Linked DNA regions of Homo sapiens: region 2 is linked to region 1. Evidence: fine-mapped expression QTL. A gene starts in region 1. The other region holds a variant in brackets. All regions are shown on one strand. Distances are from middle to middle.

What was found.
Region 2: its variant is fine-mapped to the expression of DCTN1 in monocytes after Pam3CSK4 (Quach 2016, PIP 0.95).

Annotation. Positions count from the first base shown.
Region 1 is chr2:74,378,289-74,383,484 of GRCh38, reverse strand. It overlaps DCTN1 (dynactin subunit 1), which reads left to right and starts at 3,174. Exons shown (of 32, transcript NM_004082.5): 1 at 3,174-3,480. The coding sequence starts at 3,448. RefSeq lists an enhancer at 2,862-3,373.
Region 2 is chr2:74,332,464-74,337,983 of GRCh38, reverse strand. It overlaps SLC4A5 (solute carrier family 4 member 5), which reads left to right. Exons shown (of 31, transcript NM_133478.3): 4 at 3,807-3,957. Among named protein-coding and RNA genes, the nearest start is that of SLC4A5, 8.2 kb to the left of the region's middle. RefSeq lists an enhancer at 2,848-3,037 and a silencer at 4,540-4,629. The variant T/G (reference allele first, on the strand shown) is at 2,651.

The DNA of each region.
Region 1 (5,196 bases):
TATGCAGTCTCCTGCTCAGGAACAAGACTGCCTTCCTGTTATTATTGGATCAAGTCCTTCTCTGTCTGCCTGATGTTAAACTCCGTGCCTACCCACAGTTACCTCCCAGTATGTTGCAATGTTATTCAATAAATGTTTATTCAATAAATATTTGACCATGAGCTACTTACTGGCTATTGGATCATAAAGAGGAAAAGGTGTGGGCTATGCTTCAAAAGGCTTATAGTTTGATAGAATAACCATCTACAATTCGTTACTTCAGCTAAGCTAGGGTTCTTTACTATTCGCTAGTCAAGCAAAGTTATTTCTGCCTCTGTTCATACTGTGTTCACAAGTTACAGGGCTTTGTAGGCCTTTCCACATATTTTTTATTTTTATTTTATTTATTTATTTTTTTTTTTTTGAGACGGAGTCTCGCTCTGTCGCCCAGGCGGGACTGCGGACTGCAGTGGCGCAATCTCGGCTCACTGCAAGCTCCGCTTCCCGGGTTCACGCCATTCTCCTGCCTCAGCCTCCCGAGTAGCTGGGACTACAGGCGCCCGCCACCGCGCCCGGCTAATTTTTTTTTGTATTTTTAGTAGAGACAGGGTTTCACCTTGTTAGCCAGGATGGTCTCGATCTCCTGACCTCATGATCCACCCGCCTCGGCCTCCCAAAGTGCTGGGATTACAGGCGTGAGCCACCGCGCCCGGCCTCCACATATTTTTTAAAATTCCCATAATTCAAGGCATGCTTAGGTACTCCCTTTCTTTCTAGCTCACCTCTCTCCTGTCTATAATTTCTTATATTTATTGTGTAGATGTATATACCATTTAGTATCATGTCAGGTAATTCTTTGCAGTTCTATAATTTCTGTACTTTTTACAAGGTGCTTTTTTTTTTTTTTTTTTGAGTCTCAGTCTGTCGCCCTGGCTGGAGTGCAGTGGTGCGACCTTGGCTCACTGCAACCTTCACCTCCCGGCTTCAAGCGATTCTCATGCCTATAGTCTCTCAAGTAGCTAGGATTATAGGTATGCGCCACCACACCCAGCTCATTTTTGTATTTTTAGTAGAGATAGGGTTTCACCATGTCAGCCAGGCTGGTCTTGAACTCCTGGTCTCAAGTGAGCCACCGGCCTCAGCCTCTCAAAGTGTTGGGATTACAGGCATGAGCCACCACACCTGGCCTACAAGGTACCTGTATATGCTTTAGCTTTTTTGAACCTCATGATACTGACGTAGATATGGCAGATATTATTTTCATTTCATAGGAAAATAAACAGATTCCAAGAAATTAGGGGACTATTGATACCTATGTGGTTAGTGAGTTGTGAGGCTATTTTTAGATCTGAGCTCTTTTGAATTTTTTAAGGCAGTGTGGCCTACAGGAAGAGCAGGGCCTTGGAAGCCTAGATATGTCTGTGGTAATGGTGAGGGGTAGTAGAAAGCACAGAGGGCTCTGGGTCAGGTTGTTTCCAGTTTTGGCTCTACTCCTCACAGTCTGTGTGTCTTCAGGGAAGTTGCTCAGTTCTCAAAGACTCAGTTGCCTTGTCAGCATCATCCCTGGCCAACCTCTCAATGGGGTTATTGTAATGTCTATATATGATGACATTGTTCTTAGCTAACTTTTATTTAGCACTTATTAAATACCAGGCGGTGTCCTGGATGCTTTGTTTGGATTATCTCAGCTAATCCTCACGATACCTCTCTGAGATATGTTCTTTGTTACTTCCCTATGACGGATGAGGAAATTGAGGCATAGAGATGTTAAGTAACTAGACCAAGTTTATGTAGCTACCAAGTGATAAAGCCAGGAAAGTAGCCTGAGTCTAGAACCAGTACTCAACCATGGTTCTATAAAATGTCTTTTTTTAAGGTGTCCTATAGACTGTAAAGTGCTCCGAACATGTGAGGTCCAGGCTGCAAGGATGTGCCTGGCCCTGCCCACCTGTGTAATGGCGAATAGGGAAAGGAGGGGGCGACATGGAGATTTTGCAGGGAGGAGAGAGATTATTTCCTAGGGGGTCTGGCCAGGACTGAAGATTTGGAATTGTGTTTTGGGGCCATATTTCTGAATGTTGGCTGTCATTCTCCTGTTGGGCTACCTGGCCTATCTTAAGAGGGTAGAGCGGGGTAAAGTCACTGTTCTGCCAGTGAAGTAAGCCCAGTGCAGAAAAGACAGGCGTCCCTAGGCCCAAGGGAACTAGATCCATACCATACTCAGTGGAGCCATAGGTCAGACCCCAGGCCAACCTTGTTGGCTGTGTAGGGGCAGGGACCCTGGTCTTTTGGTTTCTAGCCCATGATAGATGGGCCAGTGAATGAAAGCAGTGTGGTAACATAGTCCCTTGGAGACCTCTCATTAGAATGCATAATCTCATTAAATTAAACAATTCTAATTATAAAAGTAATACATGGTTACTGAAGAATTTTTGTGAAATACAAAAGCGTAGAAAATAAACCATTTCATTGGGTCTGAGATGCTAGGAGGCAAGGCCAAGAGTACAAGGGGCAGATGACTGAGGTGGACTGGGCCTTGTGCTACAAGAAGAAAGAAGGGCTCTCTGCTTTTGACTACTGCCTTTAGTAATCCAGTTGAGTCTGATACTCTTGTGTTTTACAACCTGGCCCCTTATAACAACCATAAAGGGTGAAGGGTGACTATGGCAACCTTTGCCAGCCTTGTGGGAGGGGGCTAGGGTACTTGGCTTGCTTTGCTATGTGTGTGAAGTTGCCTTCATTACTGCCCTTCTCTTGCTGCCTCCTGGGCAGGGCCTGCCTCCTCTGGCTCAGTGTGAGATTGAAATCCAGGCCCTACTCACATGAATTTGGACCCTGAGTCCAGAGTTTAGAGAGGGGAGGGAGAGAGAAGAGCACCAGAAAGGTAGATGAGAGACCCTTATTTTGGCTGTGTGGAGGCTCTAGGCAGCTGATCGCTTTGAAGTGTCACTTGATGCTTATGGGCCTGCTGAGGCCTTACATCCTGGGGGAGAGGGGAACAGTGATGGTGAGTGGGTACAGACTAGGAGGACGTGTCAAGACTGCTTCCAGCCCTAGGACAGTGTATTCAAGAGTTGAGTGCTGAGGGTCTGTGGCGTATGCCCAGCCCTTAGTTTCTGGCCCACGTGAAGCAGGGGGGCACTAGGACCCAGAGGCTAGCACGGTTCCTGACAAGTCTAGAGCAGCACTAGCGCAGAGTGAGACTCATCAGCTGGCAAGCAGGATTCTGTGTCTCTGGGTTCAGGAATCCTCAGGCAGCAGAGGGGACTTGCTCCTCAGCCCCCATCACTGCCCCCACCCCTACCCGTGTAGGCCACCGAGTGAGGCCCATGGACTGGGGAGGGCTGTGCCTGACGACTCCTGTGTCCCTCTATGAGGGCCCAGCGCCCTGACCCTCCTGCCTAGGTTTCTACCTTTTCTCTCTGTCTTTGGCCAGCTGGGGGAGGGGGTAGAGGCCGGGTGAGCAACATGGCACAGAGCAAGAGGCACGTGTACAGCCGGGTAAGTGGCCCTAATCTGGGATGGCCCTGGAGGGCTGCTGGGGAAGGCCTGGCTGCCTGTGGACATCATTGCTGTGGGGGCTGGGGAGATAGGCTGGAGCTCAGCTGAGGGCACTCAGACTGTGTTTTCTAAGGAGCCCTCGAAGCCCTGGTGGTGTAAGGCTGGACAGGCTTCCCTTTACAGAGTTGATCCCTAAATGGGGACTAGCAAGGCCTGACCTCTGACTCTAATTGGCCCTCATACCAGGGGCTCCTGAGGGGGTCCAGACTATCCTGGGGACTCAGAATGGGGATGATGGCTCAGAGAGGTCTTACAGTGAAGCCTTTCTTAAGAGCTGCTTTGTTATTTGTTACTTGCTTTCTTTCTCTTCTGAGATAGAATCTGTAGCTACTGTTGTGGCCCCCTGGTTCTGAGAGGCTTATTGGGGTTGGAAAGTGGGGGAGTCTCTGACTTTGGGTTCAGCCTTTTATATCACTGGCAATTCCTTTTATTGTCAGGTCCATGAGAGCCATCCTGCTGTTCCAGGTGTGATTTGGGGTCCTGGAGCCTCTGGGAACTACATCCTCACCTTCCTGGATGAGCTGTTTGGGGAAGGGAATTAGGCAGTGATAGGCTGGGAGGTGTCCTGGCTCTTCCCTGGCTCTGCCAGGGCTCCCTTCTGAAGCTATTATAAATGAGAGTATCAGAAGGGTCTCCCATAGAGTCTTTAGGATGATGGTATCACTTCATCATGCCTCATTCATCTGTTTGCTGCAAGGCCCCTGGTTCATGGAGTTGCTGTTGCTAAAAATGACCTAAGTGTGATTTTCTTCTAAACCATGGGCCTATTTGGGACCTAATTTTCTATTGTGTTCAGTCATCATGGGTGTGCCGAAGCTAAGAGCTGCCCAAGGACAGTGTCTTAGTCTGTTGTTTTGCCTTGCCCATCTGTGGAGTGATAAACCATTCATTTGGACCACTGAGCAGAGTCTTGGGGACAGAGCGAGGGGTAGATCCACCCAATTTACTTGGCCTGTGTTTTCCTTTTTATAGCAACATAGCATGGAGAAGAATCTCCAGAGCTTGGGGATAGAGAGTTGACCAAACAAGACTCAGGCCAGGTAGAAGGGGAGTTGAATGGTTGAATGGGCTGTGGTGAAGCATCTGGGGTTTCATGGTGGGTTTGTGGATGGGGGTGGGAGGAGTCAGATCAGGAAGGAGAGGTGGTGACTTAAGGGTCTGGAAGGAGGCACAATTGTGTGCCTCTGAAAGGGTGAGGCCTAAGAAAACCATTTGAAACACAGAGGAGACAAGTGACAGTGGAAGGGGAAACAGGATTCTGTAGGATCACCCACTGAATTGCCTGTCTTCCCAGCTCAGACTCCTGAGTCAGGGCATTGGGTTGTGGGGAGCCTGGTCTAAACTGAGTTATTTGCTTGATCTTATTTCCCCTCCTGAGAAGAGAATTAAGGAGACAGTGCTCCTGAGAAAGCAGCCATGTGGTGACATTCACAGACTGGTCAATGAATTCTGATTTGTTATAAAAAATATAAACTTAAAAATTCTAGCAGATTCCAGAGGAATTTGGAGAAATCTTAGAATATCATTGGCATTTTTTCAAAGGGGAATTTGGGGGTCCACCCAATTCTGTAAATGGGGTTTAAGAAAATGACTCTGGTTGTTTTTCAGTCCAGCATCTTGGCTGAGGCATTTCTTATACATAAGAATGCCACCTTT
Region 2 (5,520 bases), 46 kb after region 1:
GCGCCACTGGGCTCCAGCCACACCTGCCTGGAAAGCCTTACTTTCTGTTTCACGATACCTAGTTCAGAGTCAGCCCACCCATGGGATCACTCTCATTTAAAGATCTTAGGCAGAATAACCACATAATTTACTGCTCAAAATGGGACCCTTTTGAGAATGAAAGGAGCACAACTAATTATGAAGCCAAGACAACAGGGGCAGATAGTTACTGTCCAAGGCAGATCGGGATGCAAATTCAAGCTCAATCTTAAGGAACAATTACATTTAATTTCGGAGCAGAGATCAATAATATGTGCTGAGCCCTGCGAATGATTTAAGTTGCTGCCTTTGTCCGCTGCCCAAGCTTCTCTTCTAAATGGATTTTTTAAACAGTGCATTTCCCTAACACTATTTTCTTAAAACTTTATCCTTTAGAATACCAGTTTCGGCCCATAAACTCAAGTGTGTAAAAAAATTAGTTTGTTTATAAAATTCTCCTTCATCTGTACTTGAGCCCCGCTCTTTAAAAAGGTGCTGACCCTTAATCCCAGTCAGTTCTGAGTTTCCTTTGCAGTTTCCATTTTGGGTTTGGGGTGGGGTGGAGTGCAGGGTTCTAGACTCTCAGTGACCTACAAAGGGTCCTGCCCTTCATGTCATCTATCCTTGTCCCATCTGGTCCTGGGTCGTTGGTGCCTGCAGGTTATTGTGGAGGTCAAAGTCTCTCTCCACCTCTTCAAGCAGCCTCACTCAGGGAGCTTGCCTGGGGTCCTCTTGGCCTAGATACACCCAGCAGCTGTTCTGTTCCCTGCTCTCAGATCCACAGATTGTGAGGGATGCTGCTTTCTCTGTGGGGCTCAGTCCAGGGAGCGGGGATTGGGACCTCAGCCTCCAGGACCTAGCAAAGTCAATGTTTCTCAACTTCCCTCCAGCCTTTGTCCTTGCCCTGGGGAATTATTCTTGGATATGAGTGAGGGGCAGGGAATGCCTTGATCTTTCTCATGACCATTTTCTCCCACACTTTGGTCTAGGTCTAGGCCAGAAGTCTCTTCTATTCCCCTAAGGAAAGAGGCTCCTTACCTCTTCTTTCTGTTTTCACACACCTTCCCTGCAGCAATGAGCATAGAATGGCCTGGCTATTTGAGGCAGGGAAGGGAGAGAGGTAAGGGGAGTATCAGGCTGGAGAAGGCATTGGCTAATATTTCAGAACATAATCTTGCAAGGCATATAAAAATATCTTATACAAGATGTGCTTCCTGTTTTAACTATTATGATTTTATAATTTTTCAGATCTTGTAGGCAAGACTCCCTATTCCCATCCCCCAGGCCAGGGCAGCCAGTTATCAGCTGTGTGAACTTGGGCAAATTATGTTATCCTCTCTAAGCTTTAGTTTTTTCGTCTGTAAATGAGGATAATAGTAGTTCATATCAGTGCTTCTACTTGCCAAGCACTGCTCTCAATGTTTCATGTATGTTACCTCATTTAATACTCATCATAAACCTATGGGATAGCTGCTATCATTCCCATTTTACAGATGAGGAAACCACTTCTCACAGTTGTAACTTGCCCAAAGTCATGTGATCTCCTGCTCTTAATCACTTCCCCAACCTGTCTTTCATAAATATTAATAATGACCTCAGCCAGGCGTGGTGGCTTACTCCTGTAATCCCAGCACTTTGGGAGGCTGAGGTGGGAGGATTGCTTGAGCCCAGGAGTTCAAGACCAGCCTGGGCAACATATTGAGACCTCATCTCTACAAAAAATTAAAAAGTAGCCTGGTATGGTGTGGCACCTGCCTATAGTCCCAGATATTTGGGAGGCTGAGGCAGGAGAATCGCTTGAGCCTGGGAGGTCAAGGCTGTAGTGAGCTGTGATAGTGCCACTGCACTCTAGCCTAGGTGACAGAGTGAGAATGCTGTCTCCACAATAAATAAATAAATAAATGAAATGACCTCTTGAGGTTGCTGTGAGGATTAATTGAGGTAAGGTATGTAAAGCTGTCAGCCCTGAGCCTAGCACATAGTAAAAACTCAGTACATTCTAAGCTCATACTTTAGCCATGATTTTTTGGTCATTTTCATTCAAAATGCCCTTGGAATTGTATTTAAAATATATATAAATGTCTGAACTTAAGCATATTTGCCCTATTCAGTTTTCCCATCCAGAAATATGATGTCTTATTATGTGTTTCTTAGCAAAGTTTTGCCACGTGTCCTCATATAAAACATGCATTTCTAGGCGAGTTTATTTCTAGATGTTTTAGGGTTTTTGTTTTTATTGAAAATGAAATCTTTTCCTCCATTGTATCTTTTGATCAGACAGTGCTGGTGTCTCCAGGTTCTTATTAGTTAATCAGCTCCCAGATGTCTCTAGAGGCTATGTCTTTCCATAGCCCTCTTATTTTAGGTTGACATGAAGATCATTTGGCCCAGCCAGTGACATACGCTCTGAGAGAGAGGCACAGGGGCACAGGGTGAGAAGTAGCTTTCCAGGGTAGCTCAGGTTGGCTGAGGTGATCAGAGAACTGTCCTTTGGCTAAGGAAGTACAGCCTGGGGAGAGGGGAAGGAAGGGGCCAGCCCTTGCTTGGCTGCATGCTGTTTCTGGGTCCATTTGGGGATCTGTCTGAAGAACGAGTTCCTAGGTACCCACATTTCCTCTGTGGCCTCAATGAT[T/G]CCCAATAGTGTGTGCCAAATGATGGCTCCAGTGGCAGCTCTGCCAAGGCCCAAGATGCCTCCGTGGGCTCTAGCTTGCTTAAGTAGAGAGACTGTCATCCAGCAATGTCTCATTCTTCATCATGTGATTAAGAGCAGGAGATCACATGACTTTGGGCAAGTTACTTACAACTGTGAGAAGTGGTTTCCTCATCTGTAAAATGGGAATGATAGCAGCTATCCCATAGGAAGTGGAGGATACATAATCTGTGGCGTCCCTGAATCAGCTCCCTGCCTGACTCCACTGCAGACCTCCAGAGGGCAGCAGAGAGCAGGCAAGACGGGAGAACAGGACTTGGTTCCTGGAGAAGCAAAAAAGACTCTCTGCTCCTGCAAGCTGCTAGGAATACTGCTCATCCCCCTCCCCGCCTCCTCAGGATACACATGTGAGCTTCTTCCTGAGGGTGTAATAATTATAATAATATTATTAGTTAATACTAACTATTCCCTGTGGGCCAGACATTGACCTAAGGTTTCACATTGATTCAGATAACCATTGAGGTAGATATAATTATTATTCGCATTTTTTTTCAGTTGAGGAAATTGCAGTGAAAAAAAAAAGAAGTTGTCCAAGATGCCACAGTTAGTTGAGTCAGGATTTGGACCCAATCATTTATGAGCCAGGCTCTATTCTAGGTATCAGAGATACATCAGTGAATAAGACAAACTTTCTGCCATATTGGAGGAACAGACAAAAAGTGAACAAATGAATAAACACATACTGTGGTTTTGGATAGAAATGCCATTTAGACAAATAAAGCAGAGTTAATGACCAGAGAGGGGCATTTTAGATGGGCTGGTCAGGGAAGGTTTTCTTGGGTAGATGGCATTTGACCAAATAGTTGAATACACGAGGTAGCAAGTCAGGCTGAAGATTAGGGAAACAGTAAGTGCAAAGGTCCTGAGGTGGGAATGAGCCTGGGGTGTTAGAGGAACAGCAAGACTTGCGTCGTGGCTGCTGTAGAGTGAGCCGAGTCCATAGGCCACAGCAGCGATTGGGAAGTAGATAGGGGTGGTGAAGAAAGAGAACTCCTCCACAGCATCACCTGGGCTTGGCCTCTTACAATGTCTCAGCTTCTCTTTAACATATCTCTCACCTTTTTTCACCTTCCTGCAGAGTGCTGACACCATCACAGTATGTTCCCTTCTCAACCCTGGACATGGTTCAGAAACAGCTAAAGCAGACAAGAATCTGGGGCAGCCAATATTGTACCACCTGCCAAAGCTTGGCACAAACAATCTGGAAGCCAAAAATTGCACATACTGTGGTGAGTACTGCCCAGCCTGTGGGGAACTTCTTGTGGGTAAAGGTTCTAGATAAGCCTGCCAGGGCCCCCAAATGAATCCTTAGTCCCATTAACAAGGGCCTAAGTCCCGCAGGCCTTTCCAGGGTAGGAAGCTGCTATTTTCTTCAAAGAATTTTGCCCCCATGCCATGGTCCTAGGTCAGACCTACCTAAATCCTTTCAGATGTCAAACCCAGGTAGGGTTCAGATGGCATTTAGCCAGGAGATGGAAGGGAATCCGTCCCAGTGAGCAGCCATCACTGTCCACCAGGTATCTGAAGAAAATGGAGGCACAGAGGTCAAACAGTCATCCCTCAGCATCTGCAAGGGATTGGTGCCAGGACCACCCGTAGATATCATAATCTGAAGATGCTCAAGTCCTTCACATAAAATGTGACCTATGCAATCCTCTGTTTATCTTAAATCATCTCTAGATTACTTCGAATACCTAATACAATGTAAATGCTATGTAAATAGTTTTTTATACTGTATTTTGGGAGTATTATTTTTTATTGTTGTATTGTTATTTATTTTTATTTTTTCAAATATTTTTGATCTGCTGTTTGTTGACTCCTTGGGTTAGGAACCTGTGGATATAGAGGGCCAACTGTACTAAGAATCTTTAGCTCCCTCTCCTGGCAGATCCCTGGCGAGTGAGGTGGGCCTATGTTGAGTGCTCCTTTTGCCTGAGTGAGAGCCTAGAACCAGAGACTGAATGCCCTAATCCAGGATTTCTTGATCATGGCACCATTGATAGTTGGGGTCAGATAATTTTTTTGTTGTGGGGGCCATCCTTGTAGGACGTTAGCAGCATTTCTGACCACTACCCACTAGAGGCCAGAAGTACTCTCCCTCCAGTAGTGACCTTCCCTCCAGTATAACCAAAATAGATCCAGACATTGCCAGATGTGCCCAGGGGAAGACACCTGTGGCTGAGGAACACTGGGGCCAGTTCTTTCCCTTTCCCCAAGACCAGTGCATGAGCCTCAGCTGTTACCACTCTGGTGGTGAGGAAGAGTTGACAGTATCCCCCAAGCATTTACTTCAGTGCCACAGCTGAGTGGCTGGCTTGGCATGTCCTTGGCTGTAACATGGAAGGAGGCCAGAGGACAGGGAGCAGAGAGAAAAGGGGTAGCCATATCTTCTCTCAACATTTTTTGGCTTACAAAACTAAACCACAGGGAAGGGCAGGGATGAGGTTGGCCATACACATCACAGGACTAGGTCTTTCTCTCCCTCCTCATCTCTCTCTCTCTTTCATGCACATACATGCGCACACACACGCACACACACACACACACACACAAATGGACACCCCTCTGCCATTCTGTGTATTGGCTTTTCTCTCTCCCACTGAAGACAGGCTTTTTCCAGAGACAAAAGAGTACTTTGTGCAGGAGGAAAAAGTTAACGAATGGACTGATTTTGCCCAAGAGATTGGCAGGGCAGGAATAAGAGGTTATGAGTATCAATGAGAGAAGAGAGGAAAGGATTCATTATGATGTCCAGACCAGAAGGGGAAGTAAATGAAGCCATGAGGAGCTGG